Linked DNA regions of Homo sapiens. The protein of the gene in region 2 purifies or fractionates together with the protein of the main gene of each other region. This does not show direct contact. Each region holds a gene or a part of one and is shown on either strand. Other genes may lie near its edges.

Region 1 (3,500 bases), on a different chromosome or scaffold from region 2:
GGAGGATCACTTGAGCCCAGAAAGTCAAGGCTGCAGTGAGCTGTGATCTTACCACTGCACTCCAGCCTGGGTGACAGAACAAGACTCTTGTGTCAAAAAAAAGTGATGTTTACGTGTTTAAACTCTGTTTATGGATAGAGAGGAAAAGATGGGTGGCAGGCACATACATTCTACCTGGCACCTGAAGGCTGGAGGTCGATATGAAGGTAGATAGTGCGCTGTGGCAGGACATGGATAAATGTTACTCTGCTGTTCTGAGTTGCAGTTCTCTGTTTCAGTGATTAAGGAGAAATGCCTCAATTGATCACTGGAATAGCAATGGTGGGTTCCGACTGCCAGAGGGAGGCGAGGAGGTTTGGATGTGTGCTCTTGTAGAAAAGGGCTGTGCTACTGGTGTGCAGCCTCAGGTGCATCATAGGTTTCTCGTCACCAGCCTACTCTAGGTCCATGTCATTAGCTTTCTTTGGGTTCTCTCCACAATTACCATCTTCCACGAAAAACTCATTTTTCTCATAGGCCAAGCAAAAAGTAGGCCGGAGCACTTCATCAAATCCTTAATGACTGTTGAGCTCTAACCTGGACAGAGAACACTGACTCACAGGCACTGTTAACCCCAGGCCTTGCCTGGCTGTGGCCTCTAACTCCCCGGAACCACAGGGCCTGCCTCTGTGTCATGGCTGATTTAGGGTGGCTCATGCTGGTGGCTGTATCTCAGGAACCCAAGGCAAGGTGGTTCCCTCCATCCCTACCACCTTCTCCAAAATCTGCCTGGGGTCTGTCAGAGGTTTGGTAGCCAAGATGTGTCTCCATGTTCCAGCTGCAGAGCCTGAGTTGAAGTAAATAAAATCACTCTTTTCTCTTCAGGAAGAGATTCCGTTTTGTAAAACATCCTAAGTTAGAAGCCTTAAAAATCCTACTCTGTGCCCCTCTTTCTATTCCTTTCTTTCTTTCTTTCTTTCTTTTTTGAGACGGAATCTCACTGTGTCACCCAGACTGGAGTGCAGTGGTGCGATCCTGGCTCACTGCAACCTCCGCCCCCCGGGTTCAAGTGATTCTCCTGCCTCAGCCTCCCGAGTAGCTGGGATTACAAGCACCTGCCACTGTGCCTGGCTAATTTTTGTCTTTTTAGTAGAGATGGGGTTTCATCATCTTGGCCAGGCTGATCTTGGACTCCTGACCTCGTGATCCACCCACCTCGACCTCCTAAAGTGCTGGGATTACAGGCATGAGCCACTGCTCCCGGCCTCTGTGCCCCTCTTTCTAAGTGCTGTTCTGAGAATTAGTGACTCTAATTTCACTGGCAAATGCTTTAAAAGGCAGCATTCATACCCTCTCCCTTCCTTCCAGCTGAAGACTAGCCTTTTTCTGGCCAGGAGTGTGAAGCTTTCTGTAGGGCTGTTTTAAAGGCAGCCCTGCCACAAGCCACTAATTGGCATTCCCAAAACATCAGCATTGACATCTGGGAGTCTGCCCTCATCACCACCCACCACTTCTCTGATGTGGCCACTGCCATTGTCTCAAAATGACTTGGTTCCAATTCTGGGGCAATTCGGTACCGATATATGCCATCCTATGACTCTTAGAAGTCTAGGGTATACCAAATATTCCTTTATTTTCTCTGTCTAAACCGAATTCCCTAATTCCCGCCTTGGAGCGTCCCTCTGGATTGGCTGAGTCTCTGTGCACATGCACAGGTGCCTGCCCTTCTCCCTACTAGGTTGTGCCAAGAGTCCATCAGCATGGGGGCCCTCTGGTTGGTGGTCATGAGTCCTCACAGGGAGGCCTCTGCATCCTTATTTGCCTGCCCTCCTGAGGTCCTGCCATAACATACCTGTTCTTCCTGAGGACTTCTGCCGTCTTGAACACTGCCGATAAGTGCCAGCCCTGAAGCTCCGGGGCCCGCAGCCCTGCTGCTCTCACAGATCCCAAGGGAAACTTTTTTCCTAGCCTGGGAGATTCCCTTTCTCCCTCTTCTTCTCCCAGGCCAGTCAGCTTCTTCCTGCAGCTCCTCTCCAATTTCTTTCTCCCCTCAAACCTGTCAGGCTCTTTTGTGAGTGCAGGCTTTTTTCAAGTGAATAATTTGCTGGTTCTGACCAGATATCTACCTCCCCTGAGACAGTGAAACTCAGAATCATTGGCCCCTTCAATGGAGAGAAGACAGAGGGGAAAAGAGAGGAAAATGTGAATTAATTTTATTATATTTTATGGTCATAATGTCATTATGTTCAAATCACAGATACTTATTGTGTCCTGCCTTGTCCTGAGGACTGTGTGAGGCACCAGGAATCCAGATAATGAATGACACACAGCTGGGTCCCCCGAGGATCATAGTCTGATGGGGGAGATAGACGTACCACTGAGATTGTAGGGTGGCGTAAAATGCGGGAAGACAGAACCCAGAACTAGCCCAACAGAGAGGCTCTTAATTGAGGCCACTAGGAGACAGGGAGAACTTAACAGAATATATGGTCCATGCAGGTGGGGATTTTTTTTTCCTGTTTTGCTTATTGTTATAGACCCACAACCTAGAAATGGTGCTCTTGTAATATGACGTTTATTGCTGCATGAATGGATGAATAAGTGAGGAGGTGGTGGAGTCATTGAGAATGTTAGCAGAAGGTCTGTGGGGGATTTGGGAAAACAATATATTTGTCAAGGTGCCAGTGGAAAAGATATGGTGCAGTCATATTGGGTAATTGGAGGAAAGTTTAAGAAGGTGGTTATTTACAAAGGTGTGTGCAGTGCATGGGGAATCCACAAGAGATAGTGTTCTGCCACAGGGGTGATAGCAGTGGGATATGACCAACCCTAGGCCAAAAGGGGCAGGGGAGAGAGCAGTGATTGAAACCGGGAAGGAGGGAGACTCTATGGAGAGGGTCACCTTGAGAAGAACTGTGATCTTCAATTAAGGGACATAGCAGCCCAAGAGGACTGTGCAGGGAGGGAACCAGGAAATGAAATAACATGACCTTACTCTCTTCCCTTCCTCAGTCATCTACTGGGGCTCCTCATGGGTGAACCTCTTTGGAAGCCAGAGAGCGAGGGAGTCTGTTGTTATAGTCCACACAGGCCAGCCTCCTGGGGCATGTAGCCAGTGCAGAGTAGATTGGGAAAGGCAGACCGAGGCCATCCAGACAGTCGCTTTCAGGAAATCAGCACTTGTCTCACAGTGCCTGGACTTGGTCTTGAGGGGCCCTGGAAGTCATGGAACCTTTAGCTGGAAAAGTTATAGCAACACAAAGTTTCTGAAGGACTAAGCAGATATTCTTGTTTTACAAAAATTACCACTTAGCATCCATGGAGTAGCTTTTATGTTCTTTGTCCTTTTAGGCAAATAATCTCCCCAAAGCCATCGCCGCTGCTCACACCTTTCTACTGAAGCATCCTGATGACGAAATGATGAAGAGGAACATGGCATATTATAAGAGCCTGCCTGGTGCCGAGGACTACATTAAAGACCTGGAAACCAAGTCATATGAAGTATGTTTGGATTTTTATGT
Region 2 (3,500 bases):
AATTGCATCTGTACTGAACATGTAGACTTTTCCCCATGGATTTTGGTATCTGGGGAAGGTCTTGGAACCAGTTCCCTATAGATACATAGGGACAACTGTACTTACCATGTGCCAGGCATGTTGCTGGCACTTCACATTTAGTGACTCATTTAATCCCTTGAACAACCCTATGGGAAAGGCTCTATAATTATACCCAATCCATAGATGAAGAAAGTGAGGCACAGAGAGGTTAAGTAACTGACTCAGTGTCACACAGCTAGAAAACGATAGCCAGGATTTGAACCCAGACAGGCTGTGTCCAGAGCCACAGAGAGTTCTTCACTGCCATGCTTTTCTGTCCTGTTGATGTCCTTTGCCTTAAACTTGCGTCATCTTCTCTAGGCTCTCTGATGAAATGCCCTAAAAGTGGGCAGTTATTAAATGATTTTCAAGTGGAAAACTGCATGGGAGTTTAGGAAAACAAGTAGTCCACACCCTAGAAATGTTGAAAACTCCGCAGGAAAATGTTCATCAGCTTTTGAACATGCCACTGATTTGGCCGGGTGCAGTGGCTCATGCCTGTAATCCCAGCACTTTGGGAGGCCGAGGTGGGCGGATCACGAGGTCAGGAGATGGAGACCATCCTGGCTAACACGGTGAAACCCCCATCTCTACTAAAAATACAAAAAATGAGCCGGGCATGGTGGCGGGCACCTGTAGTCCCAGCTACTCGGGAGGCTGAGGCAGGAGAAGGGCGTGAACCCAGGAGGCGGAGCTTGCAGTGAGCTGAGATCGCGCCACTGCACTCCAGCCTGGGCGACAGAGCAAGACTCCGTCTCAAAAAAAAACCAAAAAAAAAACATGCCACTAATTTTTATTTGATTTGCTTTTTTTGGGAAAGCCAAGCGCCTTCTGTTTCCTTCTAAAAATGTGTGTGTGTGTTTTTGTTGTTGTTGTTGTTTTTTGAGATGGAGTCTTGCTCTGTCGCCCAGGCTGGAGTGCAATGGTGTGATCTCGGCTCACTGCAACCTCCACCTCCCAGGTTCAAGCGATTCTCCTGCCTTAGCCTCCCAAGTAGCTGGGACTACAGGCGCCTGCCACCACACCCGGCTAATTTTTGATATTTTTAGTAGAGATGGGGTTTCACCTTGTTGGCCAGAATGGTCTCGATTTCCAGACCTTGTGATCCACCCGTCACAGCCTCCCAAAGTGCTGGGATTACAGGTGTGAGCCGTCATGCCCGGCCCATAAAGTGTGGTTTCTAAAGCTGGTTGTCCCAACTTCATGAGGATAGTAGGAAGGTTTACATACTAAAGCACTTAGGGCCATGTGCTCATGCCTGTAATCCCAGCACTTTGGGAGGCCGAGGCAGGTGGATACCTGAGGTCAGGAGTTCGAGACCAGCCTGGGCAACATAGTGAAACCCTGTCTCTAATAAAATCCAAAAATTAGCTGGGCGTGGTGACATGGGCCTGTAATCGCAACTACTTGGAAGGCTGAGGCAGGAGAATCGGTTGAATCCGGGAGGTGAAGATTACGGTGAGCCACTGCACTCCAGCCTGGGTGACAGAGGGAGACTGTCTCCAAAATTGTAATAGTAATAATAAAAATATTAAAACAAAATAAAGCACTTAGAAAACAAGATGATTTGAGAAGTGTTTATTAAAAGAAAATGTGGGACTCATTTGTTTCCCTAATTCCAGCTGTCAATTAATTAGTGAAGTGTTACTTGAGGTTTTTTGATAGAATCTTCTTTTTCAGTTAAAGATTCTGAGTGCTTTGTTGGAGTTTCTTCATATCACCTATCATTTGCTTGTTAGCTTATCGATACCCATGGAACAGTTATTGACAGGACATTGGGTCGTTTTCCCAAGAGCATTCCTTGAATAAAACATTTTGCTGCCTTGCTAAGAGGTGTTCAGAAAATATTTCCACCAGGCCTAAAGTAAATCTAGCACCTCATGTCACATGACATCATGTCATCTAATGCTGCCAGTTACAGGAAAAGACATTAGAGTTTTGGGGACAAAGCCACAACACATCTGTTGAAATACAGCTAGAACAAGGGAGAAACATATGGGAATTGTCCAACTAATAGCTCTACCTTCACCCAGTCCGACTCCCTGCCTGCTCTTAAGGATTAAAATTGCCTCCGTATAAAAGCATTTTAAATTACGGCAGTTAAAGGCCGGGCGCGGTGGCTCAAGCCTGTAATCTCAGCACTTTGGGAGGCCGAGGCAGGAGGATCACGAGGTCAGGAGATCCAGACCATCCTGGCTAACATGGTGAAACCCCGTCTCTACTAAAAATACAAAAAACTAGCTGGGCGTGGTGGCTGGCACCTGTAGTCCCAGCTACTCGGGAGGATGAGGCAGGAGAATGGCATGAACCTGGGAGGCGGAGCTTCCAGTGAGCCGAGATTGTGCCACTGCACTCCAGCCTGGGCAACAGAGCAAGACTCCATCTCAATAAATAAATAAATAAACAAACAAACAAAAGAAAATACCATAAGCAGAAGACACAAAGAAGCTCCCATGGTGTGGCTCTTCATGTTTGTGGTAGATGCATTGAGACTTTTTTTTTATGCCTTCATATATATGTTTCTGATAAAACACACCTGTAATGTTTTTCACTGAAGAGTTGATTGAGAAAAGCTTTAAATATCATTTGTGGGGCCAGAGGCAAGAGTACAAATTCAGTTCCCATATCACATACCTAAACATTTAAAAGTTATAAACCATGCTTACAAATTGGTAAATAAAATGGCTTCTACTCTGCCTGGACAAATACATCTGTCATTAGGGCAGAATCAACAAACATGTTTAAAGCTATGGGTTTTATTGCTGAAAGTCAGCAAAATATCAAACATGAGTGAATTTAATTACAGTTGCCTATGTCTGGGTGTTCTGTTGATGTTTCATGAGTAATAAATACGTATACTCCATAGTATATTTTTCATAAATCTATTTTTTTGTCCATATTTTAGCAAACTCACTTGTTATGTGGTTAGAGTCAAGATTGTCACAATAGTTTGTTTTACGGACAGTAATACCAAGGTGGAGAACCTTTCTTTGTGGTTCTTAGATTGTTCTTTTTTTTTTTTTTGCTGGGACAGAGTCTTCCTCTTTCGCCCAGGCTGGAGTGTAGTGGCGCAATTTTGGCTCACTGCAACCTCCACCTCCCGAGTTCAAGCAATCCTTCTGCCTCAGCCTCCCACGTAGCTGGGATTACAAGTGTGTGCCACCATGCCTGGCTAATTTTTGTATTTACAGTAGAGACGGGGTTTCATCATGTTGGCCAGGCTGATCTGAAGCTTGTGACCTCAATTGATCCACTAGCCTTGGCCTCCGGAAGTTCTGGGATTACAGGCGTGAGCCACCCCACCTGGCCAGATTGTTCTTTTCTTAATCTAAGTCTAGAGATGGCCTGCTTTGCTGAGGCAGGACAGTAGTTACTGACATTGTCAGCGAAATTCATACAGCACTATTTAGATTAAAAAAAGAATGAGATTGCATATGATA
Region 3 (2,781 bases), on a different chromosome or scaffold from region 2:
ATGTGGTGATTTCGTGAACTCAGAGGCAGCTTCCTGCAAGGGGTTGTTGGACATGAGCCATGAAGCGTAGATGGCCGTGTGCTGCTGTGATGAGAACCGGGGGCTCAGACAGACCTGGGGCTAATGACTGGCTCTTCAGCAGGGGCTAATTATTGGCTTTATCCTATGCTAGTGGTGTGGTCTCGGTAAATCATCTAGTATCTCCAGGACTCTTGTTTTCTCATCTGTAAGATGAAGGCGATAGTGTCAGTTTCGTAAGTTGTTATAAGGATGAGTTTAAATGATGCACGTATAAAAGCAGGAGCCCATTGATGTTTAGTGGAATCTCGACACTGAGTTTTTATCTTTCTCTAACTTTCTGTCTCACAGGATGTCTGGTGAGAATCCATCCTCTGTGAGCATCTGTGAGTATTCTTGAGAGATGCCTTGGGTTGGGAAAGCCAGGGACCCTGGGACAAAGTGATGTCACCTCCATTTACTGTCTCACCTCCCAAGAAGCTTCTGTTACTGTCTTGGGAAGGTTTCTGGGCTTCAAAGGAAATGTTCTCCCTTTTCATCCTGTGAAATGGTGACTGAGGTCATGCCCACCCTTTTCCCTTCCTGTTTCTCCCCTGGGACGTTGTCATTTGGAGAAAGGGTTGGTGGACATGGATTTTCCTAGCATTTCCAGGAGGGCAGGGACTGTATCTATCTGATGGGGTCTTCACCTCACACGAAGTCCGGCCCGTAATAGGCTCTCAGTTCATCTCTGTAGTGCTTCTTGACTACTGAGGGTGGTTCTGCGGATTAAATGAGGTGTTGTTGTGGAGAAGCCCTTGGGGACAGCCGTTACCATAGCTGTTATCTGCTGATTGACACTGCTCCTCTCCCCTGCTCTTGGCCCCTCCTCCTCAGCTGTCATCAGCAGTAGCAGCTACAGCTACCACCACCCCAGCTCTGCGGGTGTTGACCTTGGGGCCAGCGCTGTGGCAGGCAGCTCTGGCAGCACCCAGAGCGGGCAGACCAAGACCACAGAGGCGCGAGGGGGAGACCTCAAGGACACCCAGGGCAAGAGCACCCCAGCCAGCATCCCAGCAAGGAAAGCCACCCGCTAGACCCATGGCCTCACCCACCTCAGCACTTGGAAGAAGAGGTGACTTTGCCACCCCCAAAGGTGTCTGCCACACCCAAGTTCCCAGGCCCTGAGTTTTAAAACTGTCTGTAGTACACTCAACTGTCTGCATCGTGGTTTAGCTTTTACTTTCAAGCTCTGATTGACACAGTCACCTTCCCTGTTTCCTTAGGTCCCATGTGGACTAACGACTTCTCATTTTCCTCGCTGCCTTTGGCTGGCAGGAGGCTTTGGAGGCACAAGCCATTATAACCTTCTTGGCCCTAAGGAAGCTGTGATCATCCCTAGAAAGAGGGAAGGAGCAGGAGACGACAGGGGAGGGGCTGGTTTGTTCTGTGCTTAGGCCAAGTTAGCTACTGTCTGAGAGGTTTTACATCCCCTGCCAGCATGGTGGGGTGACACGAGACCTGTAAGCAGGTGGTGAGAAGTTAGACAGCCTTTACTTGCTCCATCAGAAACAACTTTGCAGGATGACGCCAATATTTAGGACACCACGTGTACATCTGTAGACCACCAGCTGCACCCATCTCCACAAAGCCAAGTGAAGGTGTATTGGGGATTCTCTGCCAGCCTGTGTCACCCACCCACCTCCTTCATTATCAGCAATAGCTACCATCATTTGTCAAGCACCTACTAGATGCCAGACACCCTACACATATTGCCTCCTGTTCTCATCCATTCCTGCAAAGAAGATGCAATGAGCATCCTTGGAACAGACTGGGAGCCTGATCCCAAGAGGCTGCTGAACTGGCCCCAGTCACCCACCTATGTGCCAGAGTCAGGCCTGGCCGACACAAGGATCTATGCTTTTTCTGTGGTGTGTCACTGCCTTTTTAACAAAAGGGCTGTCAAAGTCACCATTCTTTTTGATGAGGGCAGCGTAATTACATTGCCTTTTGTCAGGACTGTGGGTATGTGATTTGTCTTCCACAGTCTCTCTGGGGCTGTGTCCTACATAGCTTCTGACTCTCAATTTTTGGTGCCATGAGCTGAGCTCAGTGAGTGGAGCTGGCTTTTCTGTCGCTGAGTGCTACTGCCTAGTCCAGATGTCGTGGCTCAGGGTGTAAATATTCCTAAGAATGGCAGCATCTATTTCCTCTTTTGTTTGAATTAAAGACTCTGAATTTCTGCTGTATATTCATTAAGTTGTCCTTGAGTGTTGTCAGAGGTATGCTTCTGTCAGTCTGTTAATCTTTCCAAATGTTCCACCCTCTAGTGATGATGTGCCACCCTCCATTTCTCCCCAGCAAGCGTGCAGGACTCTTGCTGGGAAGCTGCAGGCCAACTCAGATGAGGCTGCTCTGGAGGCAATCTCAGGCTGCTGGAAGAGACAGATACACACTCATGTAAATCAGGGAAGGGCAGCCTAAGGCAGCAATGCTAGTAAGGGACTGGAATAGAGAGGCTAAGCAAGGAAGGCTTCCTGGAAGAGGAGGAGAGTTTAATTAAATAACCAGAAAGATGGACACATGGGCTCCTGGAGAGGGAATTTAAATCACAGCAACATAGTAGTTTGGACACAGGCTTTCATGTGCTTATTTAGTAGGGGGTGGGAGATCTCAGATTTTCCAAAGTCAATACAGATTGGGTATACCTTATCCAAAATTCTTGGGACCAGAAACATTCCTGACTTTGGATTTTGAAATGTTTGCATGTGCATAATGAGATAC
Region 4 (3,500 bases), on a different chromosome or scaffold from region 2:
TGGTCAGAAGTCCACACATGTGGTGGAAGGTTCTTAGCCATCTTTTTTGAGGAAGTGTCAATGTCAGTTTCTATTGTCTTATCCCTGCATTTGATAGAGGATTAGAATGGAGGCAGATAAAGATTCAGTGAGCATCCTTACACCTCCAAACTTGCTTCATTTATCTTTTCCTCATACCTGCTTTAGTATGGATTTTAAGCTTCGTTGGGAAGCGTGTGGAGCTTGAGAAAGGGGAATTCTTCCTCCCCGGATTTTAAGTTTTGTTGGAAAATTCATGAACCTTGAGAAAGGAAAATTCTTCCTGTCTGCCTCAATACACTGTGCTGCATTGGGAGTGAATGGACGCCAAGTCCGGGATCTGGCCCTGACCTCTAGTGGGCTGCTCAGCCCTCCCACTTCGAATTGTCCCTCTCCTACCCCCTTGCTCCTGGCCTGGCCTTTTTCTCCACCCTCTGGCCTTTCCACCCCAACCCAGGCTGTTTTCAACTCAGTCTTTGATAACAAAACAGAAGCAGTGGGGGGTGGGAGCGGATTAGGAGCCAGGCCTCCCCCTGGTGGAGTGGAACTCAGGGAAAATGACAGGAAGTGTGCCCTCCTGCTGCTTCTGACACTCTGCACCCCCGTCTGGCATCAGGGTCCCAGGCTGCAGCGACCGAGAGCTAAGAGGCCTCAGATGCCCACTCCGTGACTCTCATGTCTTTCCTTTTTCCCCTCAATCTACCATCATTCTGACAACATCTACAGAGTTAAACTTGGGGCTGCGCCAGGGCGATGTTCCAGCTCTCATCTCTGACCTCTCCTCAAGAGTTTTTTCCTGGCATCCTTTCTCTGCCTGGACCTGTCCCCACTCTGCTCTCAGCTCCTCCCAGGCAATCTTTTCTAATTGATGCAGAATCCTGTAGACATTTATAAATAGCCTTCCTTCCTCCCCACCCTCCCCCCAACACCTTCAGCCACTTATTTAAGAGTGTTTTTCTTTTTTAGACATAAGCTGTTGAATTGGGCCCTTCTCTCAGACCCTCACCCCAGCTTGGGCCAGGTGGCAGGGTGGGAGCACTACTCCTGGGGCACCCGTTCCTCTGGGGCCAACTTGGATGTGAGCTTCCTGAGGGACATGTGCCTTTTTCCAGTCATGCCAACTTTCCTTTTTTTTTTTTTTTTTTTTTTAAGACAGGCTATCACTCTGTCACCCAGACTGGAGTGCTGGTTCACTTCAGCCTCCAACTCCCAGGCTCAAGGGATCCTCCCACCTTGGCCTCCCAAATTGCTGGGATTAGAGGCATGAGCCACTGCCCTGGGCCTCAACAGTTGTTAGATTTGAGTCTTTGGATATAGACAGACCTGGCTCTTTCTTGAGTGGAATTCTTCCCCTGCCTCCTGTGGCCTGTTTCCCCCTCCTAAAGAGTCTACCTCCTCAGAGCTCTGAGGGGTTGAGGAATTGCTGGGGCACTTGCCTCTCACCTCATCCCTGCCTCCAGGCCTCGCAAAGTGAGGTAATGTGGTGGAGGGGAGCTGGGGGCGGTAGGTAACAGCTGGGGGATTAGACTCATTCTGTGTTTGTGCCCTGTTCACAGCTCCTCTGACAACTCCTTAGTGACAGGGGCAACAGCTTTGGTACACACAGGGTGGTGAATGAGGCCCCGCCCTCCCAGGGGTCCTCCCCAGACCCAGCCCAGAGGGAGGCTGTGCTGGAGCCTGAGCTGGCCAGGAGAGTGTGTACTTGGTTCCTGTTTCAGTTGCTTCTGGGCCCTCAGGGCACTGAGCCCTTCCTTGCTCCTGTCAAGAGGGATTAGGGTCTCTGCTGGCAAGGGGAGGAGGGCGGATACCGGCAGGGGAGAAGAGGCTGGGAAGGTGCTACTGGTAGAGGGAGGGTGTGGAGTGCACGAGACTGTCCACACTCTGGTCTGCAGCCGCCACTCTGTGGCACTGAGTCATGTCTTTGGCTTCTTGGGGCTTTGGTGGTATGTGTGTATTAGGGGGAGACCCAAAGAAAGGGCTCCATCTTCCCCCACCAAAAATGCAGAGAAACATTTCTGTTGATTGGACATTGTTTGAGAGGAGACACATAGGGTAGAGTTGTCTGGGGAGTGGCCATCGTCCTGGTTGGCCTAAGGGACCATTGTAGTTGGAAGTAAGGGCTAAGATGAAAGATCATTTCCTTCTTTGTGATCGGCAATTCCAACGTAACCCCATTTACACTGATTTAGGGAGAGGCAGCAATGTGTATTGGTCACTTCATTAAGTCTTCCCACTTGTTTTTGGAAATTCAGGTAATCTTATCCCAGTTTACTGTTGAAGAAACCAAGGCTTAAGGAGGTGAATGTCATTTGCCTGAGGTTAGCGGCTGTTAAGTAATAGGAGTTAGGATTTGAACCCAGGTCTGTTGGATTCTGAGGTACAGGTTGAGGGACCAGCATCAAGATCCTAACAGTTCAGACTCTAAGGGTTAACCTTCACTCCTCCTCTAGGTTCCTAACAGCTATAGACCAAGGAGGCAGAGGAATGTACTCAAGAAAGAATCTGTCAGGGAGGCCAAATATTCCCCCCACTTCCACCCCTCTGAGTTCTCTGGGAAGGCTCAGGAGGGGTCGGGGGAGCTTTGTCCAGGAGCAGGAGAGTGGATCAGGAGGTTTATGATGGCTTTCACTGTGAGGGCTGGGCGGTCCCCTCTGAAGAGGGCACGCTGTACAAGCCTCACCTATACACTGTACAAGTACCTAGTCGTCCAGGACATCAGCATTCTGTCCGAAGTGCTCTGTGGTTGGCAGGTAGAGAGTGGGTTTTAAAGACCCATGTTGGGGTAGTCCGTCCTGGCTTTTAGCGTGAGAAAGCACCTCCACCCTATCCAGAGACAGAAATGCAGCAGCTACCCTCTTCTGAGCTGAGGCAAAGGGAGGGGCTGGCCGGGTATTTCCCAAGGATCAGGGTCTGGATCGGCTGTCTTTTGGCTCTGGAAATGGAGAACACTGTGTTTCCTACACCGAGGCCAGTTGGATAGAATGGGTCAAAGGCAGCTGTGGGGTCCCCCACCCAGTTCTGCAATGCTGGGTGGAGAGGGTGGGCTGGGGGCTGCTCTGCCTGGGTGGAGTCTAAACTAGTTAATGTGGATCAAGCCACACCCCTCCTGGCTTCCCGGGGAGAGAGGCAGAGGAGGAACCCAGGCTGAGCAGAGAATACACCATGAACAGAAGTCAAACAGTGTGGCCTTGGGGATGGGCTTAGGTGGTCTCCCGTGCATGCTGCTTTCCCCCTCATCCATCCCCAGTTATCTTTGGAGAGGAGGGAAGGATGGACTTGAGGTGGCGGGGCTGAGATCCAGGGCTGAGAAAGGCACCAAGCCCCTCTAGTCCTACTCTCAGAAGGGGTTAGTAGCACCCCGCTCTAAGCACCTGAGCTAAGCAGCGGCCGTCTGAGGCTGGGAGTGGGGATGCGGGAGCAGCCTCTGCTGGAGACACGCACAGGCTTCTGTGCTGGTGCAGGTGGGCATAATTCCTTTCCTG
Region 5 (3,500 bases), on a different chromosome or scaffold from region 2:
AGACATGTTTGGTATAAATACCTCCTCTGTTTGCTCTACTCCTAACCAGGAGGGATGGTTGCTTTTATACAGACCGCATTCTGGAACCTTCTTTACAGATACCCAGCCCTTCACGGGCATCCCATCAGTAGGCGATTGCTATAGTTTGAACTTGCATTAGGTGTTTTACCCTTTAAAATACTGTGTCCCTGGAAAAGTAAAAATGAGGGTTGAGCTATTAAAAATTGGGACTTGACCCAGGAATAAATATTTTTAAAAATCATTGTATCTTTGAGAACACCCATCGCCCCCCTCTGGCCAGTCTTCCCTCAGTGCATGCTCACACTCCGTTTCTTCCAGCCCGGAATCTCCATCGAACGCCCTCATTTGCATTCTGAGTGCTGAGTGCTCCCAGACGGAGCTGCTTATTAAGTGCGGCTGGCTCTTCTCTAGTCAGGCCAGGTAGAGGCTCTGGGAGGCCCAGTCAGGGGGCTGCTCTCCCCAGCCCCCTTCCTGCCTCCCTCTGGTCACCAGAGTCATCCGGCCTCTCAGTGATGTATTTAGGAAACACGCCTGGGGAATTGCATCCCCCTCTCTCTTTCGGTTCCTGTGAGGAGCCCCAGGAGAGCCTGTTCTGCATTTCCTTGCGACAGACCCCCTCGAGGACGGTGCCAGACTCGGAGGCCCCCCCAGGGTGGGATCGTGCCGACTCGGGTCCCACGCAGCCACCTCTGTCTCTCTCACCCGCTCCCGAAACAAAGAGACCCGGACAGGCAGCCAAGAAAGAAACGAAGGAACCTAAGAAGGTAGTACAGCCTGCCCACGGTGCGCCTGGCGGCCGGGAGGGTTTGGGCAGGAGGCACGCTTCCCAGAGCGCCATCCTCTTAATTCACCACACATGCAAATAGCCTCCTGATACAAACAGCCGAGTGTCTACAGTGCACACGGCATGATGGGTGTCTGTGTATTTGTGCCTTCAGATAATAGGATAATAGCCCACCCAGGTCAGCATGGGGACACAGCCCGGCCCCCAGAGGTCGCCTCTGGCCACTACCTGTCAGACCCACCCGCAAGGGACCAGACGGCAGCCGCTGCTTTGTCACTGTGGTGTGTGCCTGCTGCCGGCTCACAGATCCTTTCTCCCAGCCGTGGACTTTGGGACTGCTTTCAGTGTGGGGCTGGGATCCGTCAGGCCCCAGGAGCCTCCTTGCCTATCTATTGGCGAATGCGCTTGTTTTTCTTAGGTGCGTGCCAAGGAGCTGAGGGTTTAGCTCGCAGGATGAGCGTGTGTTCAGCTTTAGGAGACACTGCTGAGCAGTTGTCCTAAATGGTTGGTTGCCCCAAGTCACACATCCTGCAGCAGAGGACAAGGGCCCTGGATATCCCTCATCTTCACCAATACTGGGCAGTGCCGGTTCTTTAACTTAGCCATTGTGCTGGGGCTGATGACATCTCATTGTGTCTTCCTCTGCATCTCCACAGCGAGGTGTGACGCTGGGCACCTTCTCGTGTCCCTGTTACCATCTCACCACTCTTTTGGGGCAGTGCTTGTTCAAGTCTCTATCCGTTGTTTTTTTTTTCCCCCATAAAGATGGGGTCTCACTATTGCCCAGGCTGGTCTCAAACTCCTGGGCCCAAGTGATCCTCCTGCCTCGTAGCTGGGACTGCAGGTGTAGCCACCACACCTGGCTTTCCTTTCCATTTTTAATGGTGTTCTCTTCAGGACTTGCAGGAGTCCTTTCTGTATTATGGATATAAGTCCTCTGTTAGGTGTATTTATTGTGATATCTTCTCCCAATCTGTAGATTGCCTTTTTACTTGTAATGGTTTTTTGTTTGTTTGTTTGTTTGTTTGTTTTGAGACAGGGTCTCACTCTGTCAGCCAGGCTGGAGTGCATTGGCATGATCTTGGCTCACTGCAACCTCCGCCTCCCAGGTTCAAGCAATTCTCCTGCCTCAGCCTCTCCAGTAGCTGGGATTACAGGTGCCCACCCCACTCCCAGCTAATTTTTTGTATTTTTAGTAGAGATGGGGTTTCACCATGTTGGCCAGGCTGGTCTCAAACTCCTGACCTCAAGTGATCTGCCTGCCTTGGCCTCCCAAAGTACTGGGATTACAGGTGTGAGCCACCATGCCCGGCCTAGTAATGGTATTTTATGAAAAATATCATTCTTCATTTTAATAAAGTTCAGTGATCAGATTTTTCTTTTATGGCTGCTGTCTTGAAAATAAACACACATTTAATTCCAAATTTGTGTGAGCTCTGAGATAAAACATGATACTTGAGCAGGTTTCCAGTGCATAGGCTATCACAGGCCTCCCCGGGACAGCTTGTCTGGCCAGTAGAACTCACAGAGAAACAGAATTGAGGGTGTGTAGTAGCTGCTGAGGCTTCTCCTCTTTCTTCAGTAGAAGTGAAGTGCATCAGGCCGGGCATGGCGGCTCACACCTGTCACCCCAGCACTCTGGGAGGCCGGGCGCAGCAGCTCCTGCCTGTCACCCCAGCATTCTGGGAGTCAGGGTGCGGCGGCTCACGCCTGTCACCCCAGCACTCTGGGATGCTGAGGCGAGCAGATCATGAGGTCAGGAGTTCACGATCAGCGTGGCCAAGATGGTGAAACCCCATCTCTACTAAAAATACAAAAATTAGCCATGCATGGTGGTGGGTGCCTGTAATCCCAGCTACTCAGGAGGTTGAGGCATAGAACTACTTGAACCCGGGAGGCAGAGGTTGCAGTGCGCCGAGATCGCGCCATTGCACTCCAGCCTGGGGGACAGAGCGAGACTCTGTCTCAGAAAACTAACAAACCAAAATGAAGTGCATCATGTGAAGAATAAAGTAAAGTTTCCTAATAACCGAATTCTCCACACATGGGAAACACAGAGGGCTGTATCTGCCTCCGACACACACTGACTTGGACAGCCCGCCTTCCACTTCTCAAAGGGGAGGACGTCGGAAGCTTTGTCAGTGTTTAGACGTAAAAAGTTCCTGAAGGCACGTTACTGTTCTGACCTATTTAAATGACAGTAAAATACACAGAACAAAATGCACATTTTTACCATTTTCTGAGTGCACAGTTCTGTGGCACCAAGTACATTCACACTGTTGTGTTGCCATCACCACCATCCATCTCCAGAACTGTCTCACCTTCCCAAACAGAAACTCTGTCTCCTTGAAACGAAACAACTCCCGGTTCCCTCCCACCTCCATCCTCCTGGTGTCTCTGGATCTGCTTCCCACCTCCATCCTCCTGGTGTCTCTGTGGATCTGCTCCCCACCTCCATCCTCCTGGTGTCTCTGTGGATCTGCCCCCCACCTCCATCCTCCTGGTGTCTCTGTGGATCTGCCCCCGACCTCCATTCTCCTGGTGTCTCTGGATCTGCTCCCCACCTCCATCCTCCTGGTGTCTCTGTGGATCTGCTCCCCACCTCCATCCTCCTGGTGTGTCTGGATCTGCTCCCCACCTCCATCCTGGTGTCTCTATGGATCTGCTCCCCACCTCCATCCTCCTGGCGTCTCTG
Region 6 (3,321 bases), on a different chromosome or scaffold from region 2:
TTGCAGGCACTCGAGCATAGAGCCCCATGTAGACCTGGCCCCTGTAAGCTGACCTGCAGCAGGCCAGACCAGGCCCCATGTGTGCACCCTCCTCTCCTGGCCTTTGTGTCCTCCTTAACTAACACGGGCTCTCTTGTCCCCCTGCCTTGGTACAGGCCCAGTTTGACCTGGCCTTTGTCGTCCGCTACAAGCCTGATGAGCAGCCCTCACTGATGCCACACCATGATGCCTCCACCTTCACCATCAACATCGCCCTGAACCGAGTCGGGGTGGATTACGAGGTGAGCAGGAGCCAGCCGGGGTCAAGGGGCCGGCAATGGGGATGAGGAGGGCTAGCTGAGGAGAGGCTTCAGGGTGGTTGAGGCAGAGGGGCCCCAGGTAACCAGTGCCAGAGAACCAGAAAAAAAAGGATGTGGGTCTGTGGGAGGGCTTCCTGGAAGGGTTCACAGTCTAGCAGGAGGAGGGGCCAGGCTCTTAAGCTACTATTTTAAGAGATTTTTGGGCTCGGCATGGTGGCTGATGCCTGCAATCCCAGCAGTTTGGGAGGCCAAGGCAGGCAGATCACTTGGGGCCAGGAGTTTGAGACCAGCCTGGCCAACATGGCGAAACCCCATTTCCACTAAAAATAGAAAAATTAGCTGGGCGTGGTAGCACACACCTGTAATCTTAGCTACCCAGAAGGCTGAGGCATGAGAATCTCTTGAACCCAAGAGGTGGAGGTTGCAGTGAGCTGAGATCATGCCACTGCACTCCAGCCTGGGCAACAGAGCGAGACTCTGTCTCCAAAAAAAACAAAAAGAGGTTTTTTGAACTTAGCCCTGGGCTGGGTGCTGTGGAGAACACTCATAAAAACAGCTATAATCCTTTTTTTTTTCTTTTTCGAGACAGGGTCTTGCTCTGTCACCCAGGCTGGAGTGTAGTGGCATGATCACAGTTCACTGCAGCCTCAACCTCCTGGGCCCAAGCAATCCTCCCACCTCAGCCCCCCCAAGTAGTTGGGACCACAGGCGTGTGCCACCATGGCCAGCTAATTTTTTTTCTTGCTTTTAGAGATGGGGTTTCACTATGTTGCCCAGGCTGGAGCTATAATTTTTTGAGAGCTTACAACAAACATATCAGGCATCCCTAATCCAAGGATTCTCAACCAGGAGCAACTGTGGCCTGCAAGGGACATTGGCAGTACCTGGAGACATAATTGGTTTTTACAACTATGAGGGGCTACTGGCATCTAGTGGGTAGAAGTCAGAGATGCCCGGGACAGCCTTCCACAGCAAAGTGTCTATAGTGGTGAGGTTGGGAAGCTTGATCCTCAGCTCTCAATTGTAACATCTCATTTAATTCTCACTATCCTGTTCTGTTTAACCCTCATTTTACAGAAGGGGAAACTGAAGCTCAGGTTGGTCACAGTTAGTAAAGAGTGGAGGTGATGTCTGCCCAGGGCTGCCTGACTCCAAGGACAGAGCTCTTGATCACTTACTCTTTGGGTTTTTTTTTTTTTGAGACAGTCTCATTCTGTTGCCCAGGCTGGAGTACAGTGGCGCGATCTCGGCTCACTGCCTCCTGGGTTCAAGTGATTCTGTCTCAGCTTCCCGAATAGCTGGGATTACAGGCGTGCGCTGCTACACCCAGCTGGTTTTTGTATTTTTAGTAGAGATGGGGTCTCACCATGTTGGCCATGCTGGTCTTGAACTCCTGACCTCAGGTGGTCCACCCGCCTTGGCCTGCCAAAGTGCTGGGATTACAGGCGTGAGCCACCACTCCTGGCCACTACTCTTCATTTAGTGTCTTCCTTAGCAGCGCTTGTGGCTGTCACTCCAGAAGGCATCCCCAGGCAGGCAGTGCTGAGGGCCACTTGGCCATGACAGGAGATCATGACGGGAGAACAGACGGGCAGGGGGGCGGTGGGGAAAGGCCACTGATGCTTTCTGTCTCCCAGGGCGGGGGCTGTCGGTTCCTGCGCTACAACTGTTCCATCCGAGCCCCAAGGAAGGGCTGGACCCTCATGCACCCTGGACGACTCACGCATTACCATGAGGGGCTCCCCACCACCAGGGGCACCCGCTACATCGCAGTCTCCTTCGTCGATCCCTAATTGGCCAGGCCTGACCCTCTTGGACCTTTCTTCTTTGCCGACAACCACTGCCCAGCAGCCTCTGGGACCTCGGGGTCCCAGGGAACCCAGTCCAGCCTCCTGGCTGTTGACTTCCCATTGCTCTTGGAGCCACCAATCAAAGAGATTCAAAGAGATTCCTGCAGGCCAGAGGCGGAACACACCTTTATGGCTGGGGCTCTCCGTGGTGTTCTGGACCCAGCCCCTGGAGACACCATTCACTTTTACTGCTTTGTAGTGACTCGTGCTCTCCAACCTGTCTTCCTGAAAAACCAAGGCCCCCTTCCCCCACCTCTTCCATGGGGTGAGACTTGAGCAGAACAGGGGCTTCCCCAAGTTGCCCAGAAAGACTGTCTGGGTGAGAAGCCATGGCCAGAGCTTCTCCCAGGCACAGGTGTTGCACCAGGGACTTCTGCTTCAAGTTTTGGGGTAAAGACACCTGGATCAGACTCCAAGGGCTGCCCTGAGTCTGGGACTTCTGCCTCCATGGCTGGTCATGAGAGCAAACCGTAGTCCCCTGGAGACAGCGACTCCAGAGAACCTCTTGGGAGACAGAAGAGGCATCTGTGCACAGCTCGATCTTCTACTTGCCTGTGGGGAGGGGAGTGACAGGTCCACACACCACACTGGGTCACCCTGTCCTGGATGCCTCTGAAGAGAGGGACAGACCGTCAGAAACTGGAGAGTTTCTATTAAAGGTCATTTAAACCACTGAAGGGAAGATGCTCAGGGCGAGTGGGTGTGTGTGTGTCTTGGTGTGAGTGTCTGCAGGGAGAGAGGTTTTAAGAGCCCTCTTTTTTTTTTTTTTTCTTTTTTTGAGACAGAGTCTCACTCTGTCTTCCAGGCTGGAGTGCAATGACGCTATCCCCGCTTTCTGCAACCCCCGCCTCCTGGGTTCAAGTAATTCTCCTGCCTCAGCCTTCCGAGCAGCTGGGGCTACAGGCACCCATCACCACGCCTGGCTAATTTTTGTTTTTTTATTAAAGAAAGGGTTTCACCAGGTTGGTCTGGCTGGTCTTGAACTCCTGACCTCAGATGATCCACCCACCTCGGCCTCCCAAAGTGCTGGGATTACAGGCATGAGCCACCGTGCCCGGCCAAGAGCCCTCTTTTTAGAGCCTTTAAGAAAGGTCATGCTAGCCTCTCGACCCCTGAGTAGCTGGGATTATAGGTATCCATGCCTGACACATTTTTGTATTTTTTGTAGAAAC
Region 7 (3,500 bases), on a different chromosome or scaffold from region 2:
ATGATCCTTGGAGATGTGACGCTGAGTGAAAGCCAGACCGCAGAGGCCACATAGCATATGAGTCCATTTCAATGAAATGTCCAGCACAGGCCAATCCATAGAGACAGAAAGTGGAAGAGTGGCTGCCAGGGCCTGGGGGAATGGGGTGGAGAATGGGGAGTGACTGTTCTTGAGGACGGGAGTTCTCGTTGGAGTGGTGAAATTAGATAGTAGCGATGATGGCACAACATTGTGAGTGTCCTTAAAGCCACTGAATTGGATGCTTTAAAGTGGTTAAAATGGCCGGGCGCGGTGGCTCACGCTTGTAATCCCAGCACTTTGGGAGGCCGAGGTGGGCGGATCACGAGGTCAGGAGATCAAGACCACGGTGAAACCCCGTCTCTACTAAAAATACAAAAAATTAGCCGGGCGTGGTGGCGGGCGCCTGTAGTCCCAGCTACTCGGGGGGCTGAGGCAGGAGAATGGTGTGAACCCGGGAGGCGGAGCTTGCAGTGAGCCGAGATCGCGCCACTGCACTCCAGCCTGGGCGACGGAGCGAGACTCCCTTCTCAAAAAAAAAAAAAGTGGTTAAAATGGTGAATTTTGTTATGTGACTTTTATCTCAATAAAGAAAAGAACGTGTTTTACAGGTGAGGCAGCCCAGGCTGATGTTTGGGAATTCAGGCACAGTCCCCGGGGCATGGGAGGTGGGGCCCTCACCCCTCGGGGTCTCCTGTGCCCTGGACTCCTCTGTCCTCACCTTCTCACATCCAGTTGGTCACCAGGCCCTGTGGATTCACCTGCGCAGTGTCCCTGAGACCATCCTTCCTTCTATCCCTGCTGCGTTGTTACCTACTGACCCCCAGATAGCCATGGCCTGGTGGGGCATTTCCCTGGAGAAAGGGGGCTGAGCACACACACCCAAGGTGTCCAGGCCCTTGGCTCTGGCCTCGTGTTGAGAGTCTGGCCACATCACGTGGCCTCTGAGCCTCCAGCCCTTATCAATGAAGGTGATTTGGATGTTGATGATGAAAGTGGCCATGACGTCTCTACCTCATCTGCCTCCCAGCGTTGTTACAAAGACCAAATGAGATGAAATAGAAGCATGTTTTGTAAACTGAAAAGTGGTGTGCCAATGTGAGTGGTGATGACGATCAGTTTCCTTTAAGAAGTAAGTGTTGTGGAGTCCCTGACCCTGGACTGCAGCTAGGATCACGCATTCATGGTCTGCTGAGAGCTGCGTGTTCCTTAGCTCCCGGGGACAAATGGATGACCCGTTAGACCACCCGGCTTCTTGTTGAAGGCGAACGTGCTGGTTACCCCCTCCGGTTTTGAGATAATCACCAGGAAGTGAGCTTGTCAGCTGCAGGCCAGTATCTCCTGTAGACAGGTGGTTTGTGTCCTTGGGTCTTGGTGCTAACCTACATGCTTCGTGCGGGACTCTGCAGGGACGTACTTAGATTCTAGGAAGAAACGCAGATTGATTTTTTTTTTTTTTTTTAACTCAGTGTGATCCTTTGACCAGTAGCATCAGCATCACTGGGAAGCTTCTTAGAAGCGTAGACCCCAGAGCTGTTTAATCAGAAGCTGCGTTTAAGATTTCCCCAGTGATTCAAATCCACACAATGTTTGAGAAGCAAACATATCGCTCTACGATATCATTAGGTGCCTGAGAAACCCTCACACCAGCAACTAAACGCCCTGAGAGAGCATCAGTTTATGCAAGTGGCTAATACAAGGTGAATGACTCCAAACCAGTGGCATCCCTATGTGCCAGCAACCACCACTTAGGAATTGTAATGAGATCTTGGTGATAATGGCAGTTAAAATATGAACTGTTTGTGAAGTAAGCTGAATAAGGATATGTGATCCCCTCAAGAGGCACAGAACTTTGTTGGAAAACACAAAAGGGGTCCCAATTAAATGGGGACACCAACGGTTTACAGCAGAGGTTCTCAACTGGGGGTGTTCTGCCCCCTTTGGAGGACATCTGCAATGTATGGAGGCATTTTTGTTTGTCATAACTGGTGGGGCCAGGTGAGGGGTGCTGCTCAGCACCCTGCAATTTACGGGATGGTTCCTACCAGAGAGAATGATCTGGCCCCAGATGCCAGTTGAGCTGATGTTGAACAATTTTGGTTTATCCTAGTGGGGTACACATGCACCCGCATGCACACGCACACACATGCAATGCACACATACACATGCACGCACATATTTTTATTTTATTTTATTTTATTTTATTTTATTTTATTTTATTTTATTTTATTTTATTTGAGACAGGGTCTCAGTTGGCCACCCAGGCTGGAGTACAGTGGCGTAATCTCTACTCAACTGCAGTCTCAACCTCCTGGGCTCAAGTGATCCTCCCACCTTAGCCTCCCTGGTAGCTGGGACTACAGGTGCCTGCCACCGTGCCCAGCTAATTTTTTGGTTTTTTTTTTTTTTTTTTTTTTTTTTTTTTTAGAGAGGTGATTTCTCCATGTTGCCCAGGTTGGTCTCAAGCTCTTGGGCTGAAGTGATCCTCCCACCTTTGCCTCCCAAAGTGCTGGGATTACAGGGGTGAGCCACCATACCTGGCCAATACACACATCACTTTAAAAATTCAAAAAATCAGGCTGGGCGCGGTGGCTCACGCCTGTAATCCCAGCACTTTGGGAGGCTGAGGCGGGTGGAATACAAGGTCAGGAGATCAAGATTCATCCTGGCTAACACAGTGAAACCCCATCTCTACTAAAAATACAAAAAATTAGCCAGGTGTGGTGGTGGGCGCCTGTAGTCCCAGCTACTCGGGAGGCTGAGGCAGGAGAATGGTGTGAACCCTAGAGGCCAAGCTTGCAGTGAGTCGAGATCGCGCCACTGCACTTCAGCCTGGGCGACAGAGCGAGACTCTGTCTCAAAAAAAAAAAAAAAAATTCCAGAATATCAAATGATATTTTGATAATACAGAGCAGTGGAGGGTGGGGGAACTTAGCATAGTGGATTGTGAAACAAATTTTAAAGTCATGATAATAAAAACAGTGTGGCATTGAAATAAAACTTAATGTGGATCAATGGAACAAAATAGCCCTCAAAGCCATTTTAATAAAAATGACTATATAAGATAGAACAAGCATAACACAGCCAATGGAAATGTGTTCAGAATTCATTGTTGACCTAATTGCCCTAGTCATAAGTGAAATATCCTCGGAGCCATATCCCGGGCCAAATTAAGAGCCATTTTCTTTGTTTCCTCTTCATACCCAGCACCCCCCTTGCCCCTCCTGTCTCTCTACAGTGTAGAGTCTCATTCCAAACTGCAAAGATTGAGGCAAAAAGAGTTGATGAATTTCTGGTCTACAAAGAGGATGAATTTCTGGTCCCTAAATAAGATCCATAATTTGAGCCTTTTTAAATTTTTATTTTTAAATTTTTTTTGGCTGGGCCCTGGCACTGCTGGCGGCACCCACATCTGTGCAATGGGCCCACCCAGACTTTGAGCCTTGATTGTAGGAAGGCTGTAGGCGTTGCAGCCAGAAAGG

What was found.
Region 1: the proteins of MYO10 (region 2) and CRTAP purify together in Homo sapiens (affinity purification with mass spectrometry, with the first as the bait; one large-scale study listed by BioGRID). This does not show direct contact.
Region 3: the proteins of MYO10 (region 2) and KRT74 purify together in Homo sapiens (affinity purification with mass spectrometry, with the first as the bait; one large-scale study listed by BioGRID). This does not show direct contact.
Region 4: the proteins of MYO10 (region 2) and SPRYD3 purify together in Homo sapiens (affinity purification with mass spectrometry, with the first as the bait; one large-scale study listed by BioGRID). This does not show direct contact.
Region 5: the proteins of MYO10 (region 2) and SEC16A purify together in Homo sapiens (affinity purification with mass spectrometry, with the first as the bait; one large-scale study listed by BioGRID). This does not show direct contact.
Region 6: the proteins of MYO10 (region 2) and PLOD1 purify together in Homo sapiens (affinity purification with mass spectrometry, with the first as the bait; one large-scale study listed by BioGRID). This does not show direct contact.
Region 7: the proteins of MYO10 (region 2) and COTL1 purify together in Homo sapiens (affinity purification with mass spectrometry, with the first as the bait; one large-scale study listed by BioGRID). This does not show direct contact.

Annotation. Positions count from the first base shown.
Region 1 is NC_000003.12:33,117,014-33,120,513, forward strand, and holds part of CRTAP (cartilage-associated protein isoform 1 precursor), read left to right. Parts: intron 1-3,330; coding exon 3,331-3,480; intron 3,481-3,500. UniProt on the Homo sapiens protein: Necessary for efficient 3-hydroxylation of fibrillar collagen prolyl residues.
Region 2 is NC_000005.10:16,926,289-16,929,788, reverse strand, and holds part of MYO10 (unconventional myosin-X), read left to right. Parts: intron 1-3,500. UniProt on the Homo sapiens protein: Myosins are actin-based motor molecules with ATPase activity. Unconventional myosins serve in intracellular movements. MYO10 binds to actin filaments and actin bundles and functions as a plus end-directed motor.
Region 3 is NC_000012.12:52,565,282-52,568,062, reverse strand, and holds the end of KRT74 (keratin, type II cytoskeletal 74), read left to right. Parts: intron 1-369; coding exon 370-404; intron 405-894; coding exon 895-1,094; 3' UTR 1,095-2,281; downstream 2,282-2,781. UniProt on the Homo sapiens protein: Has a role in hair formation. Specific component of keratin intermediate filaments in the inner root sheath (IRS) of the hair follicle.
Region 4 is NC_000012.12:53,069,391-53,072,890, reverse strand, and holds part of SPRYD3 (SPRY domain-containing protein 3), read left to right. Parts: intron 1-3,500.
Region 5 is NC_000009.12:136,448,541-136,452,040, reverse strand, and holds part of SEC16A (protein transport protein Sec16A), read left to right. Parts: intron 1-632; coding exon 633-785; intron 786-3,500. UniProt on the Homo sapiens protein: Acts as a molecular scaffold that plays a key role in the organization of the endoplasmic reticulum exit sites (ERES), also known as transitional endoplasmic reticulum (tER).
Region 6 is NC_000001.11:11,972,717-11,976,037, forward strand, and holds the end of PLOD1 (procollagen-lysine,2-oxoglutarate 5-dioxygenase 1 isoform 2 precursor), read left to right. Parts: intron 1-155; coding exon 156-281; intron 282-1,936; coding exon 1,937-2,092; 3' UTR 2,093-2,821; downstream 2,822-3,321. UniProt on the Homo sapiens protein: Part of a complex composed of PLOD1, P3H3 and P3H4 that catalyzes hydroxylation of lysine residues in collagen alpha chains and is required for normal assembly and cross-linkling of collagen fibrils.
Region 7 is NC_000016.10:84,590,579-84,594,078, reverse strand, and holds part of COTL1 (coactosin-like protein), read left to right. Parts: intron 1-3,500. UniProt on the Homo sapiens protein: Binds to F-actin in a calcium-independent manner. Has no direct effect on actin depolymerization. Acts as a chaperone for ALOX5 (5LO), influencing both its stability and activity in leukotrienes synthesis.